Homo sapiens: one gene and its partners. The protein of the gene in region 2 interacts with the protein of the main gene of each other region in a pairwise test. Each region holds a gene or a part of one and is shown on either strand. Other genes may lie near its edges. The genes, in order: STBD1, KASH5, TMEM14C and SLC41A2.

The links.
Region 1: the proteins of KASH5 (region 2) and STBD1 interact in binary tests that used the Homo sapiens proteins (3 or more experiments, as listed by UniProt).
Region 3: the proteins of KASH5 (region 2) and TMEM14C interact in binary tests that used the Homo sapiens proteins (3 or more experiments, as listed by UniProt).
Region 4: the proteins of KASH5 (region 2) and SLC41A2 interact in binary tests that used the Homo sapiens proteins (3 or more experiments, as listed by UniProt).

What each region holds. Positions count from the first base shown.
Region 1 is NC_000004.12:76,302,001-76,309,732, forward strand, and holds the start of STBD1 (starch-binding domain-containing protein 1), read left to right. Parts: upstream 1-4,732; 5' UTR 4,733-4,769; coding exon 4,770-4,989; intron 4,990-7,143; coding exon 7,144-7,732. Other genes in the region: FAM47E-STBD1 (uncharacterized protein LOC100631383), read left to right, coding at 7,144-7,173. UniProt on the Homo sapiens protein: Acts as a cargo receptor for glycogen. Delivers its cargo to an autophagic pathway called glycophagy, resulting in the transport of glycogen to lysosomes.
Region 2 is NC_000019.10:49,404,968-49,412,748, reverse strand, and holds part of KASH5 (protein KASH5), read right to left. Parts: intron 5,864-7,781; coding exon 5,786-5,863; intron 5,510-5,785; coding exon 5,453-5,509; intron 5,138-5,452; coding exon 5,078-5,137; intron 3,783-5,077; coding exon 3,718-3,782; intron 3,554-3,717; coding exon 3,466-3,553; intron 2,997-3,465; coding exon 2,874-2,996; intron 1-2,873. UniProt on the Homo sapiens protein: As a component of the LINC (LInker of Nucleoskeleton and Cytoskeleton) complex, involved in the connection between the nuclear lamina and the cytoskeleton.
Region 3 is NC_000006.12:10,718,471-10,726,250, reverse strand, and holds the start of TMEM14C (transmembrane protein 14C), read right to left. Parts: upstream 3,182-7,780; 5' UTR 3,010-3,181; intron 1,696-3,009; exon of another isoform or gene 1,682-1,695; 5' UTR 1,638-1,681; coding exon 1,618-1,637; intron 1,291-1,617; coding exon 1,214-1,290; intron 345-1,213; coding exon 243-344; intron 1-242. UniProt on the Homo sapiens protein: Required for normal heme biosynthesis.
Region 4 is NC_000012.12:104,955,050-104,962,872, forward strand, and holds the start of SLC41A2 (solute carrier family 41 member 2), read right to left. Parts: upstream 3,242-7,823; 5' UTR 3,039-3,241; exon of another isoform or gene 2,982-3,038; intron 1-2,981. UniProt on the Homo sapiens protein: Acts as a plasma-membrane magnesium transporter. Can also mediate the transport of other divalent metal cations in an order of Ba(2+) > Ni(2+) > Co(2+) > Fe(2+) > Mn(2+).

The DNA of each region.
Region 1 (7,732 bases), on a different chromosome or scaffold from region 2:
AGGATGAGATAATCTTTATAAAGCACTTAGCCTGGTGCCTGCATATTTTAGTTATTCAATAAACAAAAACAATAAAAAGAAGGCCTATTAGATGATAGCCTTGACATTCCAGGGAATAGAAAGATGTCCAAGCTGTGACCAGCAAGGGATTTATGATCTAAACTAGGGATGAGACAAACCTCAAAGATACTGATACCATAAGAGAAAACCTGGTGTGATCGAAAGGATCCCATTAGGAATAACAAATCCCAAGGGTTCTACGCTCTCTGTGCCAGCAACAAAAGGACAAGACCAAATCTCTTTCTTATTATACCCCACTGTGGAGAGGCAACAGGACTATGCAGAGACACCTCTTCTACTGGCCATGTCTTCTCCCAGTGGTCATTATCTACTTTCTCTGCTTTTCTTAAAACTCCAGCCAGATTTTCTTTCTCCCACTCAGCTGATAACCTCATTGACTACTTCCTTTGTGGCACAAAATGTCTCTTATTTTCATTCTTTTCTTTTTTTCATGCCCTTCTAATCTCTTTCCTTCATTGAAGGCCAATTCTTCCACTGGCATTCCTGACCCATCTCCCTCTTGTGCCTTATGAAAGTCCAATGAAAAAATATTTCCTCTGCTTCTCATGTCTTCAAGCTCAGTCTCCACTGGCTCTTTCCTGCTCCCAATCGTGCTTAAATCTCTCTTGGTTTATAGGAACTGCCCTGAGTCCTGGTCTATTTCTTTTCTTTTTCTTTTTGGGGGGGGGGGGTTGGTGGAAGGTGGGGGGGGGGGGTCTCCCTGTGTTGCCCAGGTTGGTCTCGAACTCCTGTCCTCAAGAGATCCTCCCACCTCGGCCTCCCAAAGTGCTGGGTATCCTGTTCTATTCTTAAGCAACCCTTCAATTTCTCTCCAACCTATTGCCTCCACGTTTCTCAAGAGAGAGATAACTCAATGCTGGACTTCTTATCCTTTCACAACATTTATATCTTAGCATTCTGAAATCCAACTTCCACCCCCACAAACACTCCAGAGCTACTGATGGCCTCTTATGTGCCAATTGCAACCATTTTCCCTTCAGTTCTCTATCAACTTCAGTTCTGCAAAGCAATGCCTCCATTCCCTCTCCTGGCCACCTTCTTGAACTGCTTTTCTTATCTGATTTTGGTTCTCCTTCTTCTCTGGCTCTTCCTTCCCACAGTCTTTAGTCTCTCTGACTTTGCAAACAGAGTTGCTTTTCATTGTTCTGTCCTCATCCCTCTAAGCCAGGATTGAGCAATCTTTTCTTGCATAAGTTTAAAGGAAAAAATATATAATAAAATAAACTTTAAAATATCCATCTATATCTATTCATACTTTATTAAATAGAATAATATCAATTAGAAAACGGGTTCTACATTATGGCCCATAAAATATAATCTCAAGACAGAATTGCAATATAAATAGCAACATGGAGGCAACTTCCCAATCTTTCTTCTTGCAATTGTGTCAAGGGCTCATCCATCCTTCATTTCTCTTTATAACATTAATCTTTACTATGGATTTAATTACCACATCTCTATGCAGAATTTCCAACATCTCCAGCCTTGATCCTCTTAAACTAAAGAAACCGAGTTCCAACTTCCTGCTCGTGCCTCCAATTTAACACGTCCCAGCAGAACTCATCATCTTCCTCCTTTGTCCGCACAACCGTTCTTGCCTTTTTTGCTCCCTGACAACACTATCTTCCTAGGCACTCACAGTTTTCTATATGGAGGCAAACATGATTGTTTTGCAAGTGTATAGCGATAAGCATGGGTATCATCAGTGCGGCAAGAATGTTTTTAGGATATGTGGCTATGAACCTTTAATATAAACATATGACTATGATTGGAGCATTTTTTAAAAGAGCAGCAACACAGAAATTAATGAGCCAGCACTTAAGTTTGGAAAAGCCAAAAGGAAGGCCAAATAATGTTCTTTAAAAATGTTGCATTAGCTTCTTGGGATTCCCAAAGAAAAAAGTAAATTAAAAAAAATGTTGCATGATCAATATGATACAATGTAAAAATAATTCTGATGGGTTGAGAAAATAATTTTTGGTATTATTTTAAATAAATGAATGGACATTTATGACAGCAATAAATATTAAGAGCCTTTTAGGTATTATAAGTGAATAGTGGGGCTTACATCTGAAGGATTTTACAGATTCTCTGGGATTTTTATCCCTTAGACAGGAGTCCCCAGACCTTGGTCTGAGGCCTGTTAGGAAGCAGGCTGCACAGTAAGGAGGTGAGTGGTTGGCAAGTGAACATTACAGCCTGAGCTGCACCTCCTATCAGATCAGTAGCGGCATTAGACTCTCATAGGAGCACAAACCCTATGTGAACCGCACATGCAAGGGATCTTATATTTTTATCAGATTTTTTGAGACAGTCTCCCTCTGTCACCCAGGCTGGAGTGCAGTGGCATGATCATGGCTCACTGCAGCCTTCACCTCCCAGGCTTAAGTGATCCTCAGCCTCCTGAGTAGCTGGGACTATAGGCGCCACTGCCTTGCCCAGCTCATTTTTGTATTTTTCCATAGAGACAGGGTTTTGCTATGCTGCCCAGGCTGAAAGAATCTTATTTTATACAGTGACATTCATTCTCTTAAAAATATAGCTTTACGGTTACTTTTTATTATACATAAAATGAATTTCAAGGAACGGTAATATCCACATGGGCTAAAAATGCATATGGAATCTACGTAAGAAAAATGCCAATAATGCTCTAGGGTGAAATTACCTGGGGCTTTTAATTCATTCATTCAACCTGTACTTCTAAGCGCTCACTCCGGAGAGGTTACAGGTGCTAAGAATTCAGCAGAGAACAAAGGACAACCATCCCCGCTGTCATTTACACTCTGAAGGGAGGAAAGAGAAATTAAACCACAGACACACAGATTATAGAGTGTATTAGAAATGACGCCCTAAGTGCTAATGAGAACAATGGAGCAGGGGAAGGATATAGGGAGTAGGATTGTAATTAAAACTGGGATTGTCAAGGAAGGGCTGGGCAGGGGAGGGGGTAGTGGGGATGCAGATGACACTTGTGCCAAGACCTAAAGGGGATGAGAGAGAGAGGATGTCTGCAGGAAGGATGACTCTAGGCAAGGAAGCCAGTGTGGTTGAAGGTGGCAAGATGGAGATGAGTGCACAGTGGTCATGGGGAACAGATCCTGTAGGGTCTTAAAGGTTCTTCCGTGTGATCTGGAGCAACTGGAGGGTCTTGAGCAGAGAACTGGGGTGTTTTAACAGGATCACGCTGACTGGTGGTTTGAAAGTGGCCTGTGGGAGCTTGCTGTGTTTTGTTTTGCAGCAATGGGAAGGATGTGGTTGCCACTTCCTGAGATGGGGAAGGTGGGGAGAGTAGTAGGTTTGGGGAGTTAGGTGGGGAGTTCAGGTCTGGATGAGTTGGGTTTGAGATGTCTATTAGACATCCACGAGGAGATGCCCAGTAGGCAGTCTTCGCCCTCACCTCTCCTCTACCTCCTCTCTTATGATTACAGAAGTTGTGGCCTGCATCAAGGCGTGCATCAGCCTTCCAGTAACCCCACTGGCAGAACCTTGCACCCCGTTAAGGGCTACTGTCCATTCGGAGCAAGGGGCACATTAGATAATTTGCCCTACCAGAGAGAGCAATTATAGCAATTACTCCAAGGCAGGTGTTTGGTATCTGTGGCCTTTAGCAGTTGAATGTCGGAGTCCAAGGGAAAGGTGTGAGCTGCAGACATAGACGTGGGGATCATCAGCTTGAAGCTGTTGTGCAAAGTCATCAGATCAGCAGAGGAAAGGATTTACAAAGAAATATATATAACACCGCACAGGGTTGTTGTCTTGTGAGGATTAAATTAAATACACACTTAAAACATCCGGAATACAGACAGTGCTTAATAAAGAGCTGCTGTTTTTATTAACAAACTTATCTGTAGGAGCTCGTCCATGGACAACATCCAGTTCATACAGATGCGTGCGCATTTCGCAGCAGCCATACACGCCCAAAGAGGACGAGACTGGATGTGATTGAGCTGACTGGCATCTTTAGATGGATGGTCCTCAGTCCAGTCCTTCCATTTTACAGGCGAGGAGGCGGAAGCTTGGGGAGGCTAAGCGCGCTGAGCTGGCGGCGGAGCGGAGCTTCCACTAGGGCTCCCAGTTTCCCCGCACCGCGCCCGCCGTCCTCCGGGCCACCCATCCCACCCGAACGCGCCACCGCTCTAGCCCGCGCTCCAGCCCGCGCGTCACCGACGCCCGCGGCCTCTCCCACCTCTAAGTTCCAGGAAGCTCTCGGCCTCTAGCTGACCGCGTTGCTGCTGAGCTTCCCTGGGGAGAAGGCGCCGAGGTGCCCGGTGCGGGCCGAGGCAGGGCTGGGCCTCGCGGGCAGCAGGCGGAAGAAGGAAGGGCGGTGGGGCAGGTCCCGGCTGCGCGGGGCAGTTGTGCGCACTTGGGTTCTTCACGCGGGACACACGTGGAACGCCGACCCCTGCGCCCCTGGCCGCTGGCAACTGGCAAGGCCGGGAACAGAAAGTGTAGGGACAGAAGAGCGCTGGAGTCTTCCCCGGGAGGGAGCCCGGGGCTGCAGCCCAGGGGCGGGGAGCGGGGCGGGGCTGGGAAAGTTGAGTACTGGTCGCTCAGGGCCGGGCTCCGCCGGAGTGCCCGGCGCAGAAACCGTAAAAGGCTGGAGCGGGCGGGGTAGGTGTGGCTCTGTGTGCGTGACCTGAGCCCCGGTCCCAGTCCCTGTAGTCTCCTGCGGCCGCGGCCTCTCAGCCATGGGCGCCGTCTGGTCCGCCCTGCTGGTTGGAGGGGGTCTGGCCGGAGCACTTTTCGTTTGGCTGCTGCGGGGCGGCCCTGGCGACACCGGGAAGGACGGGGATGCGGAGCAGGAGAAAGACGCCCCTCTTGGGGGAGCTGCGATTCCGGGAGGCCATCAGAGTGGCAGCAGCGGACTGAGCCCTGGACCTTCCGGGCAGGAGCTGGTCACCAAACCAGGTATTCTTCCCCCCGTGACTCCAGGGCACATCTGCCAGAGCTTTGAGGTTCATCGAGGAAGGGAGCAAAGAGACAAACCCACCTGGAGCTTTCCTAGGGGCCCATTCCTGCGGACGGGCTCTCCTAAGGGGACTGGGCCATCCCCACGCCCCTCGGTTTCCCAGGCTGGTTGGTACGCGCAGGCAGGTTTCTTGTCTGGTCCTCCAAGGGCCGCGCCCTTGCCGAGTCCCTCAGCGCCCGCGCCTGAGGACTTGGTCCTGCCCCTCCGGCGGGGATGAGCTCCTCCACTTGGCGGCGCTTGGTGCAGTGCGGGCGGCTGCAGTGGCGGCGCCCCTTCCCGGCCTTTGGAAAGGGGGGCTTAGGTTTAGGGGATCCTACAAGCCTCTTCGATCTCTGCCCAAGCAGGGACATTTTCTAAGTCCCAATCCGGGTAGTCTGACATCCTCCCATCGCACAGCCCATGAAGAGCTGGGTTTGGGAACACCCGAACTGCGGGCGCCTCCTGCTATCTGGATGCTTCTTTAGGAAGGCAAAGTTCAGGTTGGACTCTGGCCATGAAGGCTGTGGCTGAGGCCCTGGGGATGTGCCTTGGTCACCCCTTTCAGCACTGTCGGCAGTCCCCTCCACGCTGCCCCAGAATAGGGCCGGATAGTCATCCCTAGGAAGGGACTACTTAAATAGGGGACCCAACCCTGATGAGTAGAATTGACATCTGGGTTTAAATTTCTGTATTTTAGGGACCGTTTGCTAAGCAGAGAGCGAACACTGGCAGAAAAGCTTACCGTCCAGTGCCCTCCCTTGGCAAGCTGCCCATGCCTGGACAGAAGCCTAATGGTGAAAATGACATCTGTGAACTTTATTTTTAGCCCAGTGGTGTTCATGTGCAGCCATATGAAAATCTGCCCGTGTGCCTTTACTGTGATTGGTCTGGGATGCCTAGACAGTTCACTTATCTTTTTTCTGAAGACCAATCTCATGCTTTAGGTTGAAAAGTTGGGAATCCAGAATAATATTTGTTCATTCTCACTTCCAACTCCCACCATCACCGAGGCGGGCAAATCACAAGGTCAGGAGTTCGAGACCAGCCTGGCCAATATGGTGAAACCCTGTCTCTACTAAAAGTACAAAAATTAGCTGGGCGTGGTAGTAGGCGCCGGTAGTCCCAGCTACTTGGGAGGCTAAAGCAGGAGAATCGCTTGAACCCGGGAGACAGAGGTTGCAGTGAACCGAAATCGTACCACTGCACTCACTCCAGCCTGGGTGACAGAGCGAGACTCCATCTCAAAAAAAAAAAAAAAAAAGGGATAAAATGAAACAAGACTGTTGTCCCCATACCACCACCACCCCCACACCACATAAAACCACAGCTGTGCTGATTGTATGTATGATTTGGAGATTTCAATCTTGTAGGGAGCTATTTGGACTACCAATGGCATGGCCAAGAAGGAAACTGCATTTTTAGAGGACTTGGATTTTGTATTTTTAAGAACGTTTTTTAAAAAATGCTTACAATGGAAGGGGATACAAAACACCGTTTTGTTGGGGAGGTTCCTAACGCATATGGGATTGGCAAGGAGAAACCAGCCCCTTCCCCCAGTTCTCCCTCCACTCCTGCCCAGGGAAGCACTACTGTTCTCCGTATCTCCCCAAGGTGACAGCTCCTGCTGATCTGCCCGCAGGTCTGCGAGAGCCAATCCCTGCCCTGCATGCCTCCCCTGGGAGAACAAGTGTACTCTTCTGGTTTGTAACGTAGCCACGCAGCCCTTTGCCCCACAGCCTGGACAACATTCTTTGATGATAGGAGCCAAGCAACTTAACTTGGCTGCATGCCAGTATGGCCTGGACTGTGGAGACTGGGGACCATGGGGGGGTTACACGTCTGCCTCTACAGCTTACCACTTCATTTACACTTGTGCTGGCACACTGATACTCCTGGATGTCCCTTTTGTTGTCAGATATACATGTGTATTCTTAGAGCACAGTGTTGGGAGCATACTGGTTAATTAAGTAGTACTTGATTTTAATAGAGGGGGACTTTGTGAATTGCAGATTGATTAGTAGTAAAGCTTTCAGTAACTAAATCTATTTTCTCAGCCTGACTTTTTTCTTAAATGAACTACCTGACTCTATTACATTTTTCCTTTGATTTCTTAGAGCATCTTCAAGAAAGCAATGGACATTTGATTTCTAAGACCAAAGACCTTGGTAAACTGCAAGCAGCATCATGGAGATTGCAGAATCCTTCCAGGGAAGTCTGTGACAATTCAAGAGAACATGTTCCTTCTGGACAGTTTCCAGACACAGAAGCTCCAGCTACCTCTGAGACCAGTAACTCTAGGAGTTACTCTGAAGTTTCAAGAAATGAAAGCCTTGAATCTCCTATGGGAGAATGGGGATTCCAAAAAGGACAAGAGATATCTGCTAAAGCAGCTACATGTTTTGCAGAGAAGTTGCCTTCTAGCAACCTGCTCAAGAACAGAGCTAAAGAAGAAATGAGCCTCTCTGATTTGAACAGTCAGGACCGGGTTGACCACGAGGAGTGGGAAATGGTGCCTAGGCACTCATCTTGGGGGGATGTTGGTGTGGGTGGCAGTCTTAAGGCTCCAGTGTTAAACCTAAACCAGGGAATGGACAATGGAAGAAGCACTTTGGTGGAAGCAAGAGGTCAGCAAGTGCATGGGAAAATGGAAAGGGTAGCAGTGATGCCTGCAGGGTCTCAGCAAGTTAGTGTCAGGTTCCAGGT
Region 2 (7,781 bases):
AACCAAAGGGTTGTTCTCGATGCCACCAAGCCCCCTTCCCTGACAGGACCCAGGAGTCCCGGTTGCCTAAACTTCCTGGATGTTCCACAGATCTCGTACACTTATCTGGGTCCCAGAGGAGATCAGCATTTCCCTGTCCAACCGCCTTCTCATCCCAGGTTCCCAGACTTGGGCTGGATCTATCTGCTCTCCCTCAGGACCCAAGTACCTCTCGGTTTCTCCAGAGACATATTGGCATTGCCCTTGACCTCAGCAACCAACTTGCCATTGTTTTCTAAACGCAATCCTCGAGCTCCAGGATGGTGCACCCAACTCTTCCAGGCAGCCCCCAGACATCCCTCAAGATTTCACCTCACAAGGTCACAAGTTCCAAGTCTTGCCTCCTTTCCTCCCTCCCCATCACCCACATCCCGTCTGACCCCTGCTCTGTCCCTCCACCCCAATTATGTCTGTCTGTCCCTTTTCCTCCATCCCTAGGGCCCTGGCCTGGCTCAGGCTTCATCACCATTGCTCCAGCCTCCTCCCTGCCTCCAGTAGGTCCCTCACATGGTTCCAGAGGGATCTTTTTAAGCCCGGAGCTGACCCCACCCTTCTTGTGGCTTTATGAAGAAAAGTACAATCTGTTAGCTTGTCAGAGATTTCCTTTCATGATCTGGCCCTGGCCTCATCTCTCACTAGTCACCCCTAGTTACCCTCTACTCCTCAAGCATATCGTGATTTTATGCCAAGGCCTTGCACAGGCTGTGCTAGTGCCTCAAAGGCTGGCTTCCTTCTTTCCTTCCTTCCTTCCTTCCTTCCTTCCTTCCTTCCTTCCTTCCTTCCTTCCTTCCCTCCTTCCCTCCCTCCCTCCTTCCATCCTTCCTTCCTTCCTTCCTTCCACTCAAGTATCAGTTTTCCTTCAATATCTTCCCCAATCTCTGACCTGACACAGATACCCCTTCTCTGGGCTCCCACAGGCCCATCCCCCACCTCTAGCACAATGATCATTCTGCACTGGGGCAACCCATTTGCAGGGTCTCTCCTATCAGGCCTTGAGCACTGAGAGGCCCGGCCCCAAGGGACTCAGCTCTGTATCCCTGGGCCCATCGCAGGTTGCACTCTGAGGCCTGGCTCAGTCTTCCCCTTGACAAGCCTGTCTCTCAGGGGCATCTGACAGCTCAAAGCAGAAGCCCAATCTAACCTACACTTCTGAGGGATGAGGCTCTGTCCCCAACAAGCTGTGTGACCATTGGCATGTGATTTCTCCCTGAGCCTCAGTTTCCCATGAGTAACAAGATGAGGATGCCTGCCTTACAGAGATACTGGGAGAGTTAAATGAGAACCCAAACAAGCTCTGGTGTCAAAGAGAAACAAAAGCTTTTCTCAAACCAGGGAAAAAGTGATCAGAGAAATGAGTCTCTCCTTAAGGATGGCAAAGAGCTTTGAAGTGGTGCAGTTCTCAAGACAATACAGCTTGTTTATAGAGCTGTTTACAACATTTTCTTTAAAAGAAAAAAAAAAAATAGAGAGAGAGCCCAGAGCAGTGGCTCATGCCTGTAATCCCAGCACTCTAGGAGACTGAGGTAGGCGGATCACTTGACCCCAGGAGTTCAGCCAGACTGGGCAACACAGGGAGACCTCATTTCTACAAAAAATAGAAAATTTAGCTACACATGGTGGCACATGCCTGTGGTTGCAGCTACTTGGGAGGCTGAGATGGGAGGATCACCTGAGTCCAGGGAGATTGAGGCTGCAGTGAGCTGTGATAATGCCACTGCACCCCAGCCGGGGCAACAGAGAAGCGAGTGAGACCGTCTCAAAATAAATTAATTAATTAAAAAAAAAAAAGCCAGGTGCAGTGGCTCATGCTTGTAATCCCAGCACTTTGGGAGGCTGAGGTAGGAGGACAGTTTGAGCCCAGGAGTTTGAGACCAGTCTGGACAACACAGTGAGATCTCAACTCTATAAAAAAATTTTAAAAAGGCTGGGCATGGTGGCTCATGCCTGTAATCCCAGCACTTTCGGAGGCCGAGGCGGGCAGATCACCTAAGATCAGGAGTTCAAGACCAGCCTGGCCAACATGGCGAAACCCCGTCTCTACTAAAAAAAATACAAAAATTAGCCAGGTGTGGCAGCAGGTTCCTGTAATCCCAGCTGCTTGGGAGGCTGAGGCAGGGAGAACTGCTTGAACCTGGGAGGTGGAGGTTGCAGTGAGCTGAGATCGTGCCACTGCACTCCAGCCTGGGTGACAGAGTGAGACTCCATCTCAAAAAAAAAAAAAAAGCCAGTCATGGTGGTGTGTTCCTGTAATCCCAGCTACTTGGGAGGCTGAGGTGGGAGGATTGCTTATCCAGGAGATTGAGGCTGCAGTGAGTCAAGTTCACTCCAGCCTTGGCAACAGAATAAGACAAGATCCTGTCTCTAAAAACAAAAAACAAAAAAAACCCCAATGGTTATTGCTGAGTTAAAGATGTCATAGTGAGCTTGCTGGCTTTTCTTAAAGGTGCTAACATTTGAAACATAAATGCTTAATATATCCTTAAAATGCTGGAATAAACAACTTACTTATTCCCTTCCTACAGTAGTACGATTTTAAATAATGTAATTCCCAAGAGTGTTTTCTAAAAAACAAACCAACAATAAAAGCCACAGTGCAACTTGTGTGTTTGCTTGGTTCACCTTTGTCTACAACGCTGGCAGGTCAGTCCCTGGGGTAGGGGTGGTGTCTGGTCTGGCTTGTGGCTGGGTGTCCAGCACACACTGGGCCCTCAATTAACATTTTCTCATCAAATGGGGAACAAGCAAAAGTGTGAGTGAATGGGCTGGCCAGGGCGGCACCTGGAGCTCCTGGCCCCTTTCCAGCTCCTGGACTTCAGAGCTTTTCCTGTGCTCACCTGTCCCCCAGCTGGGGCTTCAGATGGAAACTCAGTTTCCTCACTGGTCTCATGGATGACTTCCTCCCACTGCCACACCCCACACAGAGGGTTGGAGAGATCAGCAGTTGCCACTTCCTGTTTCTGGGACAGAAGTTGTTTCCGAGGTCAGGGAGAGCCATATTAAGGTAGAAAACAAGGTCAGAGATAGAAATAGGTTTAGGTGTGCGGCTGAAAATAGGATGAGAGATAGAAAAGGGCTGGTGTGGGGCTGGGGTTGGGGAGTGGGCAGAAGCAGGAACAGGGGAGGATTTGGTGCCAGGACCAAGGTCTAGGTTCGAGATGAAGTTAAGGAGTGAGATGGTCATGGAGGGAGACGAGATAGGGGTGAGTCAAAGCTGGATCAGACTGGGGTCTGGCACAGGCCTGGGTCTGGCAGTGGGTTTGGGGTTAGGATCCGAGGTAGAGAGAGTTAGAGAAAAGCTAAGGTTGCGATAGGAGCCTCTGGCAGCAATGTGGGTTAGGGCTAGGCTGGTGTGAGGATCAGAGTAGGGAGATGTTTGGAGATTCTGCCTTGGTGGCCTGCAGCTTATTCCAGGGGTGTTAGGCCCACCTGTCGAATGGCCTCGATCTCCAAGCCCAGCGATGGGGGTAGCAGCTCGGTCCAGCCCACTCTTCTCAGCTGGGCCCCTTCAGGTAGCCTGGCCACACAGGAAGGAGGGAGGAAGATGGCCTCTGTGCCTGGTGGCCACTCAGTCAGCTCATGCTGGCCTCCCTTCCCTGCCCACCTTGGGGCTGGAGGCCAGGGTGTCCCTGCCCTTAGGCTCCCCTCCTGCCTCCTCCTACCCCTTGAAATTCCACTCACTCATCGGGCCCCTCATAGGTCTGACTCAGCTGCTCCTCCAGGCGTGAAATCTCCAGCCTCAGTTCCTGCAAAGGAGGAAGTGGGGAGCACATTTGGCTCTGCATTTTTCCCACCCTCCCATCCACCTCTGGGCTCCTCTTCCAGGGTTCTTTCCCCTTTCCTGACTACTTTGGGCTCCCCAGACACATACTGCCTAGGGACAAGGGGAAGAAAGCCATGACAGAATGTTAGGAAGCCAAAGAGAGAGAGCAACAGGAATCCAGAAGCTAAAGCACAGGCCAAGAGGCCAGGCGCAGTGGCTCATGCCTGTAATCCCAGCACTTCAGGAGGCCCAGGCGGGCAGATCACAAGGTCAGGAGATCGAGACCATCCTGGCTGACAGGGTGAAACCATGTCTCTACTAAAAATACAAAAAATTAGCCGGGCATGGTGGCACACGCTTGTAGTCCCAGCTACTTGGGAGGCTGAGGCAGGAGAATCGCTTGAACCCAGGAGGTGGAGGTTGCAGTGAGCCGAGATTGCACCACTGCACTCCAGCCTGGGTGACACAGCCAGACTCCATCTCAAAAAAGAAAGAAAAAAAAAAAGCACAGCCAAGACAATTAAAAGAAGGAAGGCAGAGGCAGAGATGCATGAAAAAATGAGACATAGATGGAAACAGACTCACAGACAGGCAAGAGAAACATGAGGGCTAAGAGACTGGTAAAGACCAGAGCCAAACAGAGAAGACTTGCCTAGGGAGACAGACAGCCTAGACCTAGAGGCAGAGACAGGAACCCACACGAGCCTCGCAGAGACACATAAAGATAAGGAGGGGAGGCTGGGTGTGGTGGCTCACGTCTGTAATCCCAGCACTTTGGGAGGCCAAGAGGGGTGGATTACGAGGTCAAGAGATCAAGACCATCCTGGCCAACATGGTGAAACCCCGTCTCTACTAAAAACACAAAAATTAGCTGGGCATGCTGGCATGCACCTGTAGTCCCAGCTATTTGGGAAGCTGAGGCAGGACAATCGCTTGAACCTGGGAGGCAGAGGTTGCAGTGAGCCGAGATTGTGCCACTGCACTCCAGCCTAGCGACAGAGCAAGACTCCGTCTCAAAAAAAAAATAAGATAAGGAGAGGAGGTGTGTGAGAAGACACCCACAGAGAATGAAAGTGAATGGAAGGAACAGAGAAAAAGTGAAAAGGCAGATACAGAAACAGAGGGGGAGACATGCAGTCATACAGTCATACATCAAGGATGGAAGAAGCAAGATGTGGCCACTGACAAAGAGGCACGAGGAGGAGAGGCAGCAAGTCCCAGAGATGGCAAAAGAGAAGTGGCGAGGGCCGCGGTGGGTGGCGAGGGCCGCTGAGTTACCTGCGTCGTCACTCTGTATTCTTCCAGGGTCTGGGCCAGGCTCTCCACATCGCGAGTGCGCTAGGAAAGCCGAAAGCCAAATGAGACTGGGACCAGTTCCCCAAAGACACTGGGGGTGGTGGTGGCGGGGGGACTGGCTGGGGGGTTAAGGGACAGGGTGAGCTTGAGGGAAGAGCTGGGGCACAAGGGAGAGCACCGGGCAGAAGGGCTTCTAGATCCCTGAGGGGTCACACTTGGGACCTGGGGAAACCCTCCAGTCTCTCCAGCTGCACATCCAAGGATCAGACCCAAGTAGGACTTCCCTTTCTAGACCAGGGGCAGGAAGTGGCTGGTGCACATGGAAAGCGAATCTCTTTCCCTCCCGGGGCCCCTTACCTCAGAGAGGATGGTGTCTCTTTGGCAAATGAGGTGTTCACACTCAAAGAGCTGCCGCTGCCAAGAAAGGAGCCGGTCCATCCATCCAGCCTCCCAGGACTCCCCTTGGTCCTGCCCTCCACCTGGCCCCACCTGTTCTCTCGCACCCCCACGTATTCAGCCTCCTGAGATGTTCCAGGACTTCAGGGATTTTAGGGATGCCTGGGTGGTCCTGGGAGCCTGACAGCTTGATGGAAGACCCTGCCCTTATCAGGCTGCAGTCACTAAAACCGGAAATGGGAAAAATGGCCCCGGGGTGGTGGAAAGTTGTCAGGCACTAGGAAGGAGTGGCACCTTCAAAGTGTCCTTCTCCATGGCCAGCTCCTGACTTCTCTTTTTCACTCCATCCCGCTCGGCAAGCAGCTTCCCGTTCTAGAAGAAGGAATGGCTGGTCACGTTCATTCCAGCAAGTGGTAATGTCAAAATTAACAGCAGATATTTGCTAAACACTTGATTGATATACATCAGGCCTCATGCTAAGCACTTCATATGTTTTAACCCATTTAATTCCTCCAACCATTCCAGTGGGACCACAGCTTTAATTTCTTTGAGTGTGGCTCCCCCATCTATAAAAATGGAGCTAGGCCACGCGCAGTGGCTCACGCCTGTAATCCCAGCACTTTGGGAGGCTGAGGCGGGCGGATCACAAGGTCAGGAGTTCAAGACCAGCCTGGCCAACATGGTGAAACCCCGTCTCTACTAAAAATAAAAAAATTAGCTGGGCATGGTAGTGCGTGCCTGTAATCCCAGCTACTCAGGAGGCTGAGGCAGGAGAAATACTTGAACTGGGAAGACGGAGGTTGCAGTGAGCCAAGATCGCCCCACTGCACTCCAGCCTGGGCGACAGAGCGAGACTGTCTCAGGAAAAAACAACAACAAAAAAACGGAGCTTAACTAGGACCTACTTTATGGGATTGCTGTAAAGATTAGATAGGTTAATAATCGCTAACACTTACTGAGCATTTTGCATGTGTTGACTCATTTCTTATCCCCAATTTTAAAATCAAAAGAACAATATAAGCAGCCTGTTATCCACATTATCTATCACCCAGCTTCAATAATTATATGCATTTTCTCGGTTTTGTTTAAACTGAGATGTTTCTCCTCCAGATTTTTTTTTTTTTTTTTTGAGCCAGAGTTTTGCTTTTGTTGCCCAGGCTGGCATGCAATGGTGCGATCTTGGTTCACTGCAATCTTTGCCTTCTGGGTTCAAGTGATTCTCTTGCCTCAGCCTCCCTAGTAGCTGGGATTACAGCCACCTGCCACAACACCCAGCTAATTTTTTTTTTTTTTTTTTTTTTGAGACGGAGTTTCCCTCATGTTGCCCAGGCTGGAATGCAATGGCATGATCTTGGTTCACTGCAACCTCTGCCTCCCGGGTTCAAGTTATTCTCCTGCCTCACCCTCCCAAGTAGCTGGGATTACAGGCATGTGCCACCACGCTCAGCTAATTTTGTATTTTTAGTAGAGACGGGGTTTCACTATGTTGGCCAGGCTGGTCTTGAACTCCTGACCTCAGGCGATCCACCTGCCTCCACCTCCCAAAGTGCTGGGACTACAGGTGTGAGCCACCGCACCCGGCTCTCCTCCAGATGTTTTAAGTAGATTACTTTAAAGCAAATTGCAGGCATCATATTAGTTCACCTGTAGTTACTCCAGCATTTATCTCCTACTTGAGGACTTATTTCCTTTAGCAAAACCACAATACCACTATCATACTTAACAAAATTAACAATAACTCAGTATCATCTCATACTAGAAAGTTTGTGCTCCTTTTTCTTTCTTTTTTTTTTTTTTTTTTGAGAGGAGTTTCACTCTTGTTGCCCAGGCTGGAGTGCAATGGCGTGATCTCGGCTCACTGCAACCTCCGCCTTCCAGGTTCAAGCGATTCTCCTGCCTCAGTCTCCAGAGTAGCTGGGATTACGGGCACACGCCATCACACCTGGCTAATTTTTGTATTTTTAGTAGAGACGGGGTTTCACCACGCTGGCCAGGGTGGTCTTGACCTTCTGACCTCAGGTAATCCACCCTTCTTGGTCTCCCAAAGTGCTGGGATTACAGGGGTGAGCCACTGCACCGGGCCTGTGCTCCTTTTTCATTTTGGTTGTCTCAGAGATTTCTTTACATTTACTTTGATTGAGGGTCCAAACAAGGTCCATCATTGCTTTTGGTTGAAATGTCTTACTTCTTTTAATCTGACAGTAATTTCTGCCCCCTCCACCCCGACCCTGGTACTCTTCAGGCCCTCATTCTGTGGAAGAAAGCAGGTCCCTTGTCCTGTAGGATTGGT
Region 3 (7,780 bases), on a different chromosome or scaffold from region 2:
GGGTAAATATAGTCACGAGCTATGAAAATCCTTCCATGTTCTGTATGTAAAAGATAAACAGAAACCAGCATAATTCCTGCCTCTGCACCCTCATTTTAAAACTTTCTGAGGACTTGGTAGAAGCAGTGAAATTGTCGTAAGTGAAGTGTGAAGAACTCACCCCATCCCACCAAACCAGGGTCTTTTGGAAAAGAGTATTCTGGATACATAGCTGCCCTAAGGAGACGCCAAAGCAGACATACCTAGGAAAACCCAAACGTTCCTTGGATCCTGAGACAGCTGGTAAGCACCCAGGCCGGCTAGACTGCCAAAGAGCAGCCCTGCAGCCAGGGACGGCACGCTGCCTAGAGGGAAGCAAACACAGCTTGCATTGTAATGTCAGGCACTTATTTCACTAACGGAATCCCCCAGACCGCTGCCCTACAAAGGAGGACAGCACAGAGAACTCTCAACACAGCTCATAGCCAAGGTGGACTCAAGCAGGAAGACGTTACAGAGAGTGTGCTATCTTCTCAGAGAAGTCAGGGTCTTCCCACCCCATTTTTCTCTCCTCTAATAGGCAGGGCACTTCCATCTAAGGAAAGGAAAGAAGGCCATCTTCCCTCCTTAGATGGAACTGTGGCTAGGCCTTCTTTCTAATCAGGCCTGATCAACCATGAAGGACTGGAATTGTGTACAGGCAGGACCTCCAGCAAATCACAAAAGGAGAAGGAGATAAGGCCAGTCAATTAAAAAAATACAAAGACCTGGAGAAGAAGAATTCTGGTGCAGGGGTTGGGGTGGGAATGCAGGCAAGGACTAGGGGGCAAACACAAGCACAGCCACTGACACACCCCTGCCTGGCCTAACGAGGAGAGTTCAAAATACCAGTCTGTGTAGGCCAGAGGTTTCCTCCTACTTGAGCCCAGAGATGGCACTTGGGGGTCGTGGCTGATGAATGGCAGTCAACGATAATAACAAACTACAACCGCCCCTGCCTATCTGTAGATAAAGAGGCAAAAACAAGTAATTCCAAAAGAGGCCTGGCTCAGCTTCACCAGATAACCAAAGGGCAAGGGCAGGAGCTGCAAGACTGACAAGGAAGCCTGCACTCCAGCTTGGGGACCCACAGCAAACCTGACTCAAATGAGATTGCTTCTCAGGGACACGGGCATTCACATTTCACTGGGACAACGTGAAGATGTTAAGAGGCTAAGTAACAACAAAACCCTACCTGCTTTTACATAGCCAATGATCCCACCAGAAGCAACCAGTGCTGCGTAGCCAAAGCCAAACCAATGCAAAGGCACTCTGAAAACACAAGAGGGAGAAGTCAGTGCTAACCTGGCTTTGAAAACAAACCATACTGTCATAGGATGGGACTAAAAGGTAATCATTCCCCACAGGTCCTATCACTGAAAATAAGGACCACAGAGGTTGGATGACTTTCTGAGAGTCACACAACTCAGCAAAGCCAGAGCTGGGACTCAAACCCAAGTTTCTGGCCCACAGGTCCAGTGATCCTCCCATCCCCCATGCCATCCCAGGCAGTCTACTCTTAAGGTTCTTTTCAGCTAAGGAAAGGAACTCTGGTTTCCAGAAGCTCCTGGCTACTCCATACCCATTTACTGCACTCACACTGAGCCAGTGTCCTGCATTTTTCTCTTCTCTGTCCAGACAGGAGACTACCCCAGGCCTGCACCTGCAGAAAACAAGCTGGATCAGAGGTAGTTAAAAGCACAGCTCTCCAGCAGTCAGAAAGAAGTGTGTCCAACCTGCAAGCTACGCAACCTAAGTCTCAGTATTCTTCACTGTACCATGAGGATAACACTGGTACCGATTTCCTGGGGCTGTAGTGAGCATTCAATGGATGTCACATGTAAAGGTGCTTAGCACCTAGTAAACCCTGAACAGATGCTGACCATTGTCATGAAAACCTCAGTTTTAATCACATAGGCCCACGGGAAACTCAGCAAGATCCACTGACCAGCTCTAAAATCAGGGAATGTGTTAGTCATTTCATCAGCTACCCATGTTATCACTAAATTCAAAAGCAAATACTCCCGTGCCCTTAATCCAACTACTTTAATGTCTCTTTTGAGGGGAGGTAGGGGTGTTGCTTTTCATCCCTGCTGCAACAGCCAATTTCAAAGCTCAACTTTTTTAGAAACTTCTGCGTCCAACTCACAGTTCTTGTTAGGAGGGCAGTAGTAGGAGAGGATAAAATATACGGAAACAGTGGTCATATTCACATGTGACACTACACCCTTGGAAAAACAGCTTCTATTTTCTTACAGAAAGTATCCTGTGTCCAGTGAGCCAAAAGATGAAAGCAATGCATACCCCGTTTATTCTGTTTAAAGAATTAGGCCAAGCGCAGTGGCTGACGCCTGTCATCCCAGTACTTTAGGAGGCCGAGGCGGGCGGATCACCTGGGGTTAGGAGTTCAAGACCAGCCTGGCCAACATAGTGAAACCCATTGTCTACTAAAAAATATAAAAAAATTAATCGCGCATGGTGATATGCGACTGTAAATCCCAGCTACTTGGGAGGCTGAAGTGGGAGGATGGCTTGAGCCCAGGAGGCAGAGGCTGCAATGAGACATATTCAGGCAACTGCACTCAAGCATGGGCGACAGAGCAAGTCCCTCCCTCAAGGACAAAAAAAAAAAAAAAAAGAATTAAGTTTCCATAAAACAGGGAAGGGCAGCGGGCTTGGGATCTTGCCCACAGTTCTTAACTCGAGACGGCACCGAGTAAGGGAGGCTTTTAAAGAGATGGAGCAAGAAAATCACCAAGAAACGAGGCAACACTATGCTACATGGGTAAGCCTTTGCCTCAGGAGCCCAGGGGCTCCGCGCATCCACAACTTCTTTTAAAAGCAGAAAATACCCAACGAGAAAAGCACCGACCACACGGCCTGAAGGCCCGCTGAATCGGGGGGACGAAAAGCAGACGGCCGTGAAACTCCTAAATAATCCCTAAAAGTTAAAAGTGGCAGAAAATAAGAATAATCCCCAAATACTCGCACCGGTCTCACGAAGGCCCCGGCTGTCTACAAGGGCGCGCAAGCCGCAGGAATGACTGCGAGGTGTCGCCGGAAATGCAGCGGCGGGCGCTCTCCGTCCCGGTGGCGGGGCGAGGAGAGGGGAGCGGCTCTGTTGTGCCTGCGCAGTGTACCGGGAGAGGGGCGGTCAGAGAATGGGGACGGTGCGGGCGGGGCTTGAGCCGCCAAGTAGCAGCATGCGCCCTGCATTCAGCGGGTGGAGAGTGGGGCGGGGCATCGCGGCGAGCTCCTGAGTCCAGGGAACGCGGCGGGGAATCTCTGTGCTTCCCCTGTCCGCAGCGCCTGCAGGGCCGACCAGTATCAGTCCCAGGTCCAATCCTGAGTGGCCAAAAGCAGGAGACCCGGAGTTGGACCTGGGACTTGCACAAGCCGGACCACGTGAGCTCGGCCACGCCAGAGGTGAGGCCACCGCTGCGGGACCAGGGAATCTGAGGCTGGATTTTGAAGGACCCCATTAATAGAGGAACAAGTTACAGGGTATAAACCAGATGCAGGCCATCAGGGAGGAGTGTCACTCAAGCCCGATCTTGTCTACACCAGGAAGGGCCTGCCTGGAAGAAAATACGGGGGCTGCAGAATAATGTGGCTCAAAGCCAAATATCCGTTTGTTTTAGGGAGTGAGGCTGCTTGAGAAGCATCTTAAAGGGGGATGGGGAGTAAGTTAAACCTGATTTTTACCCAGCTCTGTGGACCCAAAATATCCACAGCATATTATCTCCATTCCCACTTGGAGTCACTCCTATTCCGTTTCCTGCACCACCATTCTCTTAGTTGCTCTACACTAAAATTTGCTGTCATCGTTGACTTCTCCCTCTCCATCCCCTACAAGTATCAACATACACAAATCTGACCAATATAATTGTCAGTGAATAAAGCGAATTCCAGCCAAGTTTTTTTTTTTTTTATGTGGAGTCTCACTCTATTGCCCAGGCTGGAGTGCAGCGTATGATCTTGTCTCACCACTACCTCTGACTCCCATGTTCAACTGATTCTCCTGCCTCAGCTGCCTGAGTAGCTGGGATTATAGGCCTGTACCACCACCCCTGGCTGCCAGGCTAATTTTTGTTATTTTTAGTGGAGATAGTGAGAGATCACAACGTGCCAGTGTGTTCAAAATTGATGGCTTCTTGGTCTGACTTGAGAAAGCTGCAGACCCTCGCGATGAGTGTTAGTTCTTAAAAGCAGTGTCTCTAGAGTTTTTCTTCCGATGTTTAGAAGTATTCAGGGAGTTTTTCTGCTGGTGGGTTTGCTGTCTCACTGGCTCAACGAGCAAAGCTACAGACCTCTGTGGTGGATGTTAAAGCTCTTAAGGCAGTGTGTCTGGAATTGTTTGTTCTTCCCGGTGGGATCGTGGTCTCCCTAGCTTTGGACTGGCTCAAGGAGCAAAGCTACAGACTTCTATAACGAATGTTAAAGCTCTTAAGGCAGTGCGTCTGGAATATGTTTGTTCTTTCCGGTGGGATCGTGGTCTTCGTAGCTTTGGGAGCAAAACTGCAAATCTTCGCAGTGAGCGTTACCACTTGTAAAGACAACACAGGACCTAAGCACCGAGCAACAGCAATATTTGTTGCAAAAAGAAAAAGAGAAAGAACAAAGCCTCCTCCACATAGAAGAAAACCCAAGTGCGTTACAACTACTGGCTTGGGCAGCCTGCTTTTATTCTCTTATCTGGCCCCACCCACATCCTGCTGATTGGTAGAGCCGAGTGGTCTGTTTTGACAGGGTGCTGATTGGTGCGTTTACAATCCCTGAGCTAGATACAAAAGTTCTCCACGTCCCCACCAGATTAGCTATAGAGTGTCCACACAAAGGTTCTCCAAGGTCCTGCCAGAGTAGCTAGATACAGAGTGTGGATTGGTGCATTCACAAACCCTGAGCTAGACACACGGTGCTGACTGGTGTGTTTACAAACCTTGAGCTAGATACAGAGTGCCGATTGGTGTATTTACAATCCCTAAGCTAGACATAAAGGTTCTCCACGGTCCCCACCAGAGTAGCTAGATACAGTGTCCATTGGTGCATTCACAAACCCTGAGCCAGACACAGGGGGCTGATTGGTGTGTTTACAAACCTTGAGCTAGATATAGAGTGCCAATTGGTGTATTTACAATCCCTGAGCTAAACATAAAGGTTCTCCACCTCCCCACCAGACTTAACCCAGCTGGCTTCACCCAGTGGATCCCACACCAGGGCTGCAGGTGGAGCTGCCTTCCAGTCCTGCGCCCTGCGCCCACACTTCTCAGCTCTTGGGTGGTTGATGGGACTGGGCCCTGTGGAGCAGGGGGTGGTGCTCATCAGGGAGGCTCGGGCCCTACAGGAGCCCACGGAGGTGGTGGGAGGCTCAGGCATGGCGGGCTGCAGGTTCCGAGCCCTGCCCCGTCGGAAGGCAGCTAAGGCCCCGCGAGAAATCCAACGCAGCGCCGGTGGGCTGGCACTGCTGGGGGACCCAGTACACCCTCTGCAGCCGCTGGCCTGGGTGCCAAGCCCCTCATTGCCCAGGGCCGGCCGGCCGGCTGCTCCGAGTGCGGGGCCCGCCAAGCCCACGCCCACCCGGAACTCCAACTGGCGCGGAAGCGCCGCGCGCAGCCCTGGTTTCCGCTCGCGCCTCTTCCTCCACACCTCCCTGCAAGCTGAGGGAGCCAGCTCTGGCCTTGGCCAGCCCAGAAAGGGGTTCCCACAGTGCAGCGGTGGGCTAAAGGGCTCAAGTGCCTCCAAAGTGGGAGCCCAGGAAGAGGAGGCGCCGAGAGCGAGGGCTCTGAGGACTGCCAGCACGTCGTCACCTCTCACTAGCAGCCTTCGCTTGCTCTCGGTGCCTCCTTAGCATCGGCCAGGCTCGAGGAGCCCTTCAGCCCGCCGCTGCGCTGTGCGGGGCCCTCCCTGGGGCTGGCCGAGACCGGAGCCGGCTCCATCTGCTCGTGGGGAGGCGTGGAGGGAGAGGCGCAGGCGGGGACTGGGGCTGCGCTGCCCCGGGTTCCAGGTGGGCGCAGGCTCGGTGGGCCCCGCACTTGGCGCGACCTGCCGGCCCCTGCTGGGCTTGATCGGAGGCTGGGTCCAGTGCGTGGACCGCCGTTCCCTCTTGGCGGGGTCGTTGGCCACGATGGCGGGTCTCTGTCTCTCTCCTCCTCTTTTCCTCTTGGTTGTGTGGGAGGAGCTCCCGGAGTGCCCAGGCTAGTTGCCAAAAAGTCCCACCCAACTCCCAGCGAGAGGTGAAGCCCGCTGGGCTTCTGGGACGGGTGGGGACTTGGAAAACTTTTGTGTCTAGCTAAAGGATTGTAAATGCACCAGTCAGCAGTTTTTTGTCTAGCTAAAGGTTTGTAAACGCACCAATCAGCGCTCTGTGTCTAGCTAATCTGGTCAGGACTTGGAGAACTTTTGTATCTAGCCAAAGGATTGTAAACGCACCAATCAGCACTCTGTGTCTAGCTAAAGGTTTGCAAATGCACCAATCGGCACTCTGTAAAATGGACCAATCAGCTGGATGTGGGTGTGGCCAGATTAGGGAATAAAAACTGGCCACCCACAGCCAGTAGGGGAAACGTGCTTGGGTGTTTTCTTGGGCTGACAGAGCTTTGTTCTTTTGCTTTTTGCAATAAATGTTGGTGCTGATAGTTCTTTAGATCCGTGCAATGTTTATGAGTTTTAATACTCACCGTGATAAGGCTACAGTTTTGCTTCTGAAGCTAGTGAGACCACAAACCCACTGAAAGCAGATGAAAAACTGGATGTGCCACCTTTATGAACTGTAGCACTGACTGCAGAGGTTGGTGGTTTTATTGCTGAGGCTAGCAGAGAGCACAAACCCACCAGAAAGAACAAGTAACTGCAGATGTGCCACCTCTAAGAGGTGTAACACTCACTGCAAAGGCCTGCAGCTTCATTCCTGAAATCAGTGAGACCGTGAACCCACCAGTAGGAAGAAACTAGATAATGTCTGAATGTCGGAAGGAACAAACTTTGGACCCACCATCTTTAACAGTTGTAACATTCAATCATGAGGGTCTGTGGCTTTATTCTTGAAGTCAGCAAGACGAACCCACAAAGTCCAGACACAATGGGGTTTCACCATGTTGGCCCAGCTGGTCTCAAACTCTTAATCTCATCTGCCCACCTCAGTCTCCCAAAGTGCTGGGATTAGAGGCATGAGCTGCTTTGCTGGCCTTTGTAGCATGGTTTTTGCTTTTTTTTTTTTTTTTGAGATGGAGTTTTGCTGTTGTAGAAAGTAGAAAAGCTTCTCTTCAAACCTTGTCTTGGTTTAAAAATAGACACCAGGAATAATCACATCTTACTCCAAAGCCTGCTATCAACTGTTAGTTCTTACGATTTAGCCCAGTTAGTTGCTTTGGCTTATTCAGGCATGTCTGGACAGGCCCAAGCAAGTCTCAGCTCATATTTTATGCCCCTTCCTTATTTGGAAATGTTATTATTTCCTTAAACCTTTCATAAGCAACTTAGTCTCCTTTATCCTCCCTTGCACCTAACTATTTAGGAAAGTTTCAGGTTGTTAGCAAATTGGAAATTTAAGACCGAGGTCCAGCACCAGTCAATGCATGCAGGACACAGCAGTAAGGAGGACCCAAATGTGTAAACCCTCTGCTTTTCCTTTGTTCAAGTGTGCTATTGCCGTTGTTCCATCTGTGAGAAGCACCCTTTCTGCAGGAAGTGAAAATGGCCTTGCTGAGAGAATTAAATTTATGTTTGAGTGCTATTTTGTGGTGCTGGGGAACAAGCATTTCTA
Region 4 (7,823 bases), on a different chromosome or scaffold from region 2:
CGAAGTTTTGCTCTGTGCAGTGGCGTGATCTCGGTTCACTGCAACTTCCACCACCTCCTGGGTTCAAGCAATTCTCCTGCCTCAGCCTTCTGAGAAGCTGGGATTACAGGTGCCCGCCAGCACACCAGGCTAATTTTTGTATTTTTAGGAGAGACAGGGTTTCACCATGTTGGCCAGTCTGGTCTCGAACTCCCAACCTCAGGTGATCTGCCCGCCTCAGCCTCCCAAAGTGCTGGGATTACAAGCATGAACCACTGCACCCAGCTGGCCCTCGCTTTCTGATTACCCTCGCTACCTGATTACCCTCACAACCTGATTAGGTTCCTCAGCTTCCACTGTCCCCCAGGTGGTGTCTGATCACTCTGGCCTGTCTTCAGCAAGAATCCTGTTAGGTTGGTTTGGTCTGAATATCCACTACCCCCGGTGTTTCCTCTCAGTACTTTTCTGTCCACTGACCATGACACTGCTCCTTGGCTATAAATTCCCATTTGCCCACACCGTATTCAGAATTGAGCCTAGTCTTCCTCCCAAACTGCAAAATCCCATTCCATGGTCCCTTTACCTATCACAATGGTCCTGAATAGACTTTTTTTTACCACATTTTAACAAGTATCATCGAATAATCTTTTTCTTTAACAACAATCATATTAGATCAGTGGAAAATTGAGTTTGAATTCCTGGGAGGTAACATCAGGTCTTTTTAGTGGTTTTTTTTTTTTTGGCCATGAAAGACCTGATGCTGAATTTGTGTGCGCTCGGAAATTAACCATGAAATAAGCACAGCAGCATTCATTTAGCTGTAAGTGGCTCTTAACTTTAGTGCCATCAAAAATATTTATTTACCACCCACACATGAACATAATTGTAATAAAAACTACACTGCACAAACTTAAGAAAACAAGATTCTCCACTTTACTGAGAAGTTAAACATAAATTTTTGAGTGATTTGTGCTTGCCATTTATTGTTAGTTTGTTCAGCTGGCCACTAATATAAATTTTTTGTAATTAAAGTGATAACTGGGATTTTCAAATTGAGCATAGAATATATGAAAATACCAATTAAGGGTGGTCTCTCTTGACTCCAGTCAGGAATATGCCTTCTGTAGCTTTGCTCAAAATACCAGGGCAGTAAATGTAAAGGGGTCAGTAAGATGTCCAGAATGAACAGGTAGGGTATTCTTAAAGAATGAAGTGGCACTTATTCAACCTTTACCCAAGAATAAGCATTAAGTTTTTCGGTATCAGATTGGTTGGATTTTTTCAAGTCAGTGCCAGTATCCAAACCTATTAACAGAAATTTTTTTCCATAAATGAACAATAAAACTCAATAAAAAGCTAAGCAACCCAGACTGGCCGTGGTGGCTTATGCCTGTAATCCCAGCACTTTGGGAAGCCGAGGTGGGCAGATCACTTGAATTCAGGAGTTGGAGACCAACCTGGCCAACATGGTGAAACCACGTCTCTACTAAAAATACAAAAATTAGCCGGGCATAGTGGTGTGTGCCTGTAGTCCCAGCTACTTGGGAGGCTGAGGCAGGAGAATCGCTTGAACCCCGGAGGTGGAGGTTGCAGTGAGCCAAGATTGTGCCACTGCACTCCAGCCTGGGTGACAGACTGAGAGTCAGTCTCCAAATAAATAAATAAATAAATAAATAAAAATAAAAAGCCAAGCAACCCAATTAAAATATGGGTAAAAGATATGAACATTTTCTCCAAAGAAAATATATGAATGGCCAATAAGCACATGAAAAGATGCTCAGCATCCCCAATCATTAGAGAAATGCAAATCAAAACCACAAAGAGATACCATTCCACACTCACTACGATGGCTATCATAAAAAATAACCAGTAAAAAAGTAACAAGCCTTGGGGAAGATGTGAAGAAATCGGAACCCTCATACACTGCTTAGTGGGAAAGTAAAATGGTACAGCTGCTTTGCTTGGCAGTTCCTCAAAAAGTGAAACACGGAGCAATTGCCCTCCTAGGTATATACCCAAGAGCACTGAAAACACATGTCCACAAAAACGTGTAAACAAATGTGCATAGCAGCATTACACACAATGGCCAAAAACTGGAAACAACCCAAATGTACATCAACTGATGAATAAACAAATGTGGTACACTGATACAACAATATTAATATGCTATAAAAAGTAAAGTACTGATACATACTACATGAGTGAAACTTGAAAACATTACAGTATGTCTTTCGACGCCAGACACAAAAAGCCACATATTGTACGCTTCCATTTATATGAGATTTCCACAACAGGCAAACCCATATAAACAGAAAGTAGATTAGTGGTGGCTAGTGGGGTGGGGTCAAGGGGAAATGAGGAGTGATTACTAAGAGAGACAGGGTTTCTTTTGGGGATGATGATCTGGATAGTGGTCATATTTGGAAAACTCTGTGAATATATTAAAAGCCACACTTTAGAAGAATGAGTTTTATGGCATGTGATGTATATCTCAATTTAAAAATTGTCACTACAAAAAAAAGATGACATATATACGTAATATACACATCAATGTATATCGGTAACACATAGATATGTGTCATCTCTCTCTGTAAATGAGCATTTGGGCTTTTAAATTTGAGATATGCTCCGTGTATATAAAGAGAAGAATGAAAGAAAAGGGTGACGGGGCACTCGCGGAGCCCTGAACAGGCATCTGGGGTGTGCCCGAGCCAGCCTCGCAGCATCTCCATCCCAGCTCACCTTCAGCCATCACTCATACACCACCCGCCGCCTGTCCCTGCCTTGGGCGCCCGGGACCGCTTGTCCGCGGTGGCCGCGGAACAGCTTCCCTCAGCCCGAGGTGGGGCAGGCGCGGGGGCCTGGGCTCGGGCGCTGCCCGGCGGCCCGGAGAGGCGTCCGCAGGGGGCACGGCTGCTCGGGCGGGGCCGCTCCCTCTGCTCCCCGCGCCCCCGCCGCCGGGTCCCGAGCCCAGGCCTCTCGGCCCCACCTCCCTCCCGCACCTGATGCGCCCGAACGCGGCGCCGCGGCCGAAGCCGAGACTTCCCCTCCATGGTCACCTGTTCCGGAGCGCGGCGGCGGCAGCGGCCGGTGTGAGAAGGGTCCCCGTCTCCTCAGACCAGACCGAGACACCAGGGGCGGGGGATGGAAGGGGCATTCACCTGGTGCCCGGCACCGGTGGTGGCGGGGAGGACAGCGGCTCCCAGCCCACAGCTCCTTCCTGCTCCCGCGCCTCCTCGCGCGGCTGCGGCCCCAAGCTGACAGCCCGGCCGTCGGCGCCCGCGGCCCCCTGACTCCCCGCCGCCCCGCCCCCGCGCGGCAGCCCCGCGCAAGCGCAGCCGCGCCGCCGCCGGGGAAGCCCGGGCCTTGGTGATGTGGCCCGCGGGGCGGCGACCCGGAGCGACAGCACCGCCCCGCCCGGACCCCGGCCGCGCCCTGGCAGACAGCTGTCGGGAACGGGGGCGCTGGATGACGGCAAGGGGGCAGTTTTCTGGGGAGCCTGCCCAGGAGAGAAGGGCTGTGGCCTCCTTCGGCATCCCTCTTCCCCACCAGCCCACGCACGCCCACTTCACCGCCTGCTCCAAGGTCCGAACCCCCGAATCCATGACTCATGATTTCTCTTCTCAGACCAGCGGCCTCTTTTTGGCTGAGGTCATGTTTCTTGCAGACTGGAGTTAAAACCGAACCACGTGTCTTTCGGCCCAGCAGCGCATAGTGTGGGCGGTGCAGGAGCCGAGACGGGCAGGAACCACCGCAGGAGGGGGTGAGGTTTAGGGCAGCCCCATAGCACCCTCCCCGTGCCAGGCAGGTGTAGGCGCCAAGCGCATGGGGCGCTGAAGAGTTGGCTGGGGTGCCAGGCTTTTCAAGTTTCCCCACACTTGCTTTTAAACCTAGATCAAACTGATCCAAAGTCTGCATGTAAATCCGAGAGCTCATTTATTTTATTTACAAAACTATTGAGCATCTACTGTGTATGATTCAGGGAATGAGACACACCCCAGGGATACTCCAGTGAACAAAAGAAAGGTGTTGGTCCGAAGACAGTTATTTTAAAAATTACACAGCTAATGCCATAATGCCAGGATTGGTGGCTCATGCGTGTAACCTCAACACTTCGGGAGGACCAGGCGAGAGGATCGCTTGAGGCCAGGAATTTGAGACCAGCCTGGGCAAACACAGCGAGACCTGGAGTGGCTAGGAGACTGAGGTGGGAGGATCGCCTGAGCCCAGGAGTTCAAGGCTGCAGCGGGCTATGATCGCATCACTGCACTCCAGTCTGGGCCACAAAATGAGACCTTGTCTCTAAAACAACAACTCAAAATTACACAGCTAATGATACTCTTTTCCTCAAATCAAAGCTTCTACCAATTCCAAGCCACACCAGTGATTTAGTAGCAGCTTTTCTGGTGCTGAAGGACACCAGCATACATTTATCCATGTTCTTTTTTTTTTTCCTTATGCTTTGCGATCAGACTTTGAGCTTTAACCTTAACCTTCAGGGTGAAGGGTGCTTCGGTATCACTCTTGGCCATCTGCAGTCATGCTTTTTATAATGACTCATCCTGGTGTTCCTCACCACCTAAAAATGAAAGTATAATTGCAAGGAATATGGAAAAGCAGTGTTTTGACTGCATTTCCAGCTGGTTTTTGTTCTGGTTGTTTTTTGAATTACAGATCATTAGAAAGTAGCTGCTCTTGAAAGTTTGGCAGAAGTTCCACCCAATATGTGTTCCTCCCCTGAGTGTGTAGTCTTTCAAGATTTCTACACAAAGCATATACAGAAGCCAGCCTGTCTTGGTTTTGAAAATTCTTCCACCATTTTTTTCTGAGAGAGCTGGTGGTTTCTACCGTCCTTCAGAGCATTACATGGCATGTGGCAGGCAACCTTCTACTTACATTCTTCATTCAGTACCGCAAAGTAGTGTGTACTTTGGAGATATGTTAAGCTTCAAGTTGGAATCCAAATTTAAATCAAATTTCAGCCCTGAAAATAACTCACATTGGAATCGGGCGAGGAAATGCCCCCTTGTAAAAAACTGGGTCCTAATGGGTGCAGACAACAACAATCCCATTTCTACTTCATCTCCCGTCTGACAGCTGGCAACTTCAAATGTGAAGCAAGTGGCTTGGACTTGAGGCTGTGTGGTGATGCTGTTGTGATTGCTGGAAAAAAGCCTGAGAGTTATGAGAGTGTATAACAAAGGAGCGTGTCTGTGCTAGGGGGTAAGAAAGATCTCCTGGAGGAAGTGACATTTAATCTCAGCCTTGAAGAATAAGGAGGAGTTAGGGCAGGCAACATAGAGAAGGGGGTGGGGTGGGCAGTGCATTTAGCTGTGGAAACTGCAGGTTTGAAGGCCCTTTGGTAGGAAGAGGCTCTGTCTGTGAAGGCTTTGGGAAAAGGCCACTGTGCTTAGACTGAGAGAGCTACCTGGGAGGGAGAGGTGGGCGGGCCCTTGAGGGTCAGGTTAAGGACTTTGGATTTAATCCTAAAGACAAAAGAAGCCAATGAAGAGTTGAAAAGGTCCTATCTGGACATGAAAAATTGCATTTGTAAAAGATGATCCTGGATGCAGTGGCTCACACCTGTAATCCCAGCACATTGGGAGGCTGAGGTGGGAGGATCACTAGAGGCCAGGAGTTTGAGACCAGCCTGGGCAACATTGCAAGACCCCCATCTCTACAAAAATAAAATAAAATTAGCCAGGCTTGGTGGCACGCACCTGACTGAGCCCAGGAGCTCGAGGCTGCAGTGAGCTATGATCGTGCCTCTGCATTCCAGCTTGGGCAGCAGAGTGTGAGACATTGTCTCTTAAAAAAAAAAAAAAAAAAAAAAAAAAGAGATTATTCCGGCTGCAGAGTGGAGAATTAATAAGAAGGGTGCAACAGAGGATGTGTGACAACCAGTTTGCAGGCAATGGAGATTAGGAGATGATGGTGGATTGAAGATATAGGTCAGGGTTAGAACTGTAAGGATTTGATCAAATGCATGGAAGGTAAAGGCGAAAAAGTGTCAAAAAATGACTCCCAAGTTTCTAATTTGAGTTTATGCCATTTCCTGATTTGGGAAATGTGGAGGAGGAGATCAGAAGGGGACAATTTTGAGTTGCTTTATATATGTTGAGTTTGATACCCCTATGAGACATTCAAATGAAGATACTGACTCTATGTTTGAAAAACTGCAACTCAGAGTAGAGATCTGGATTGAGGTGAATCAAAACTAAATTTTAGGAGAGCACATAATATGAACTGTTCATAAGATTTAACCTCTAAACTTCAGAGAAAACCTGAGCAGGCCAGGTGTGGTGGCTCATGCCTGTAATCGAGCACTTTGGGAAGCTGAGTCAGGTGGATCACTCGAGGTCAGGAGTTGGAGATCAGCCTGGCCAACATGGTGAAACCCTATCTCTACTAAAAATACAAAAATTAGCCAGGTGTGGTGGCGTGAACCTGTAGTCTCGGCTACTCAGGAGGCTGAGGTATGAGAATCACTTGAACCTGGGAGGTGGAGGTTGCAGTGAGCCAAGATTGCGCCACTGCACTCCAGCCTGGGCATCAGAGCTAGCCTCCATCTCAAAAACAAAAACAAAAACCTGAGCAGAAGCAAAGGGAATCTAATATTTACTATGTGTGAGACACTTCGCACAGATGATTTTCTTTAATCTTGACACTCTATAAAATGATGTTATAATCCCATTTTACATACGAGGAAACTGAGGGTTAAATCCTTGCTCAAAGTTACTCAAATTCCCAAGACCTACCTCAGACCCATTAAATAAGAATCTCTATGGATATTTCTGGTGATCACTGAGGCTCAAGAACCACCATGTGGCCTACTTAAAAGTGGTCCCACAAACCATATAAATGCCCACAAAGAAAAAGAACTAGAGAAAAACCATCATTCAGGGGACATGCAGCCCATGCAGCCAATGTTCCAGACACATGTGCTAGTTTCTGCCCCTACCCCCATTATCAGTGCCCTTCCTGGGAATCTCTGCAATACTCATTTGTTCATTCATTCAACAGGTAGCTATTGTGGGCCTCTTTTGTGCCAAATATAAATCATCATTCATTCATTTATAAATATTTTTTGAGCACTTAGCTAAATGCCACATTTTGTCCTATGCTCTGGGAATACAGTATTGAACAACATAAAGGAATGCCTGCCTTACAGAGTTCATGTTCAAATGGGGAAAGAAAATAAACAACTAATAAACAAATAAGCAAATATATATATCTAGGTATATGGTGATAACTACTATGAAAAGAAATAGAGTTAAAGAGTTAGAGAGTTTGGGGGCGGGGTGGGGAAGGTGTGGAGAGGAGCGGGGACTGTTTTATATAAACTAATCCAGGGAGACCTTGATGGCTTGAACAAAAAGGAGTGAGGGAACAGTAATAATACCTGGGGAAAGTACAGCAAGCACAAAGGTCCTAAGACAGGAGTGTGTATGTTGTGTTCAGGAGACAGCAAGGAGTCTCCTGTGTCTGTAGTGAAGTAATCAAGTGGTTGAGATGAAGCAAAATTAAATTTGCAGGCCAGGTGCTGTGGCTCACGCCAGTAATCCCAACACATTAGGAGGCTGAGGTGGGCGGATCACTTGAGGTCAGGAATTCGAGACCAGCCTGGCCAACATGGTGAAACCCCGTCTTTACCAAAAATACAAAAATTAGCCGAGCCTGGTGGTGCATGCCTGTAGTCCCAGTTACTCAGGAGGCATGAGAATCACTTGAGCCCGGGAGGTGGAAGTTGCAGTGAGCCAAGATTGCACCACTGCTCTCCAGCCTGGGCAACAGAGTGAGACTCCAGGGAAAAAAAAGAAAAAATTAGATTTGCAGATGCAGTC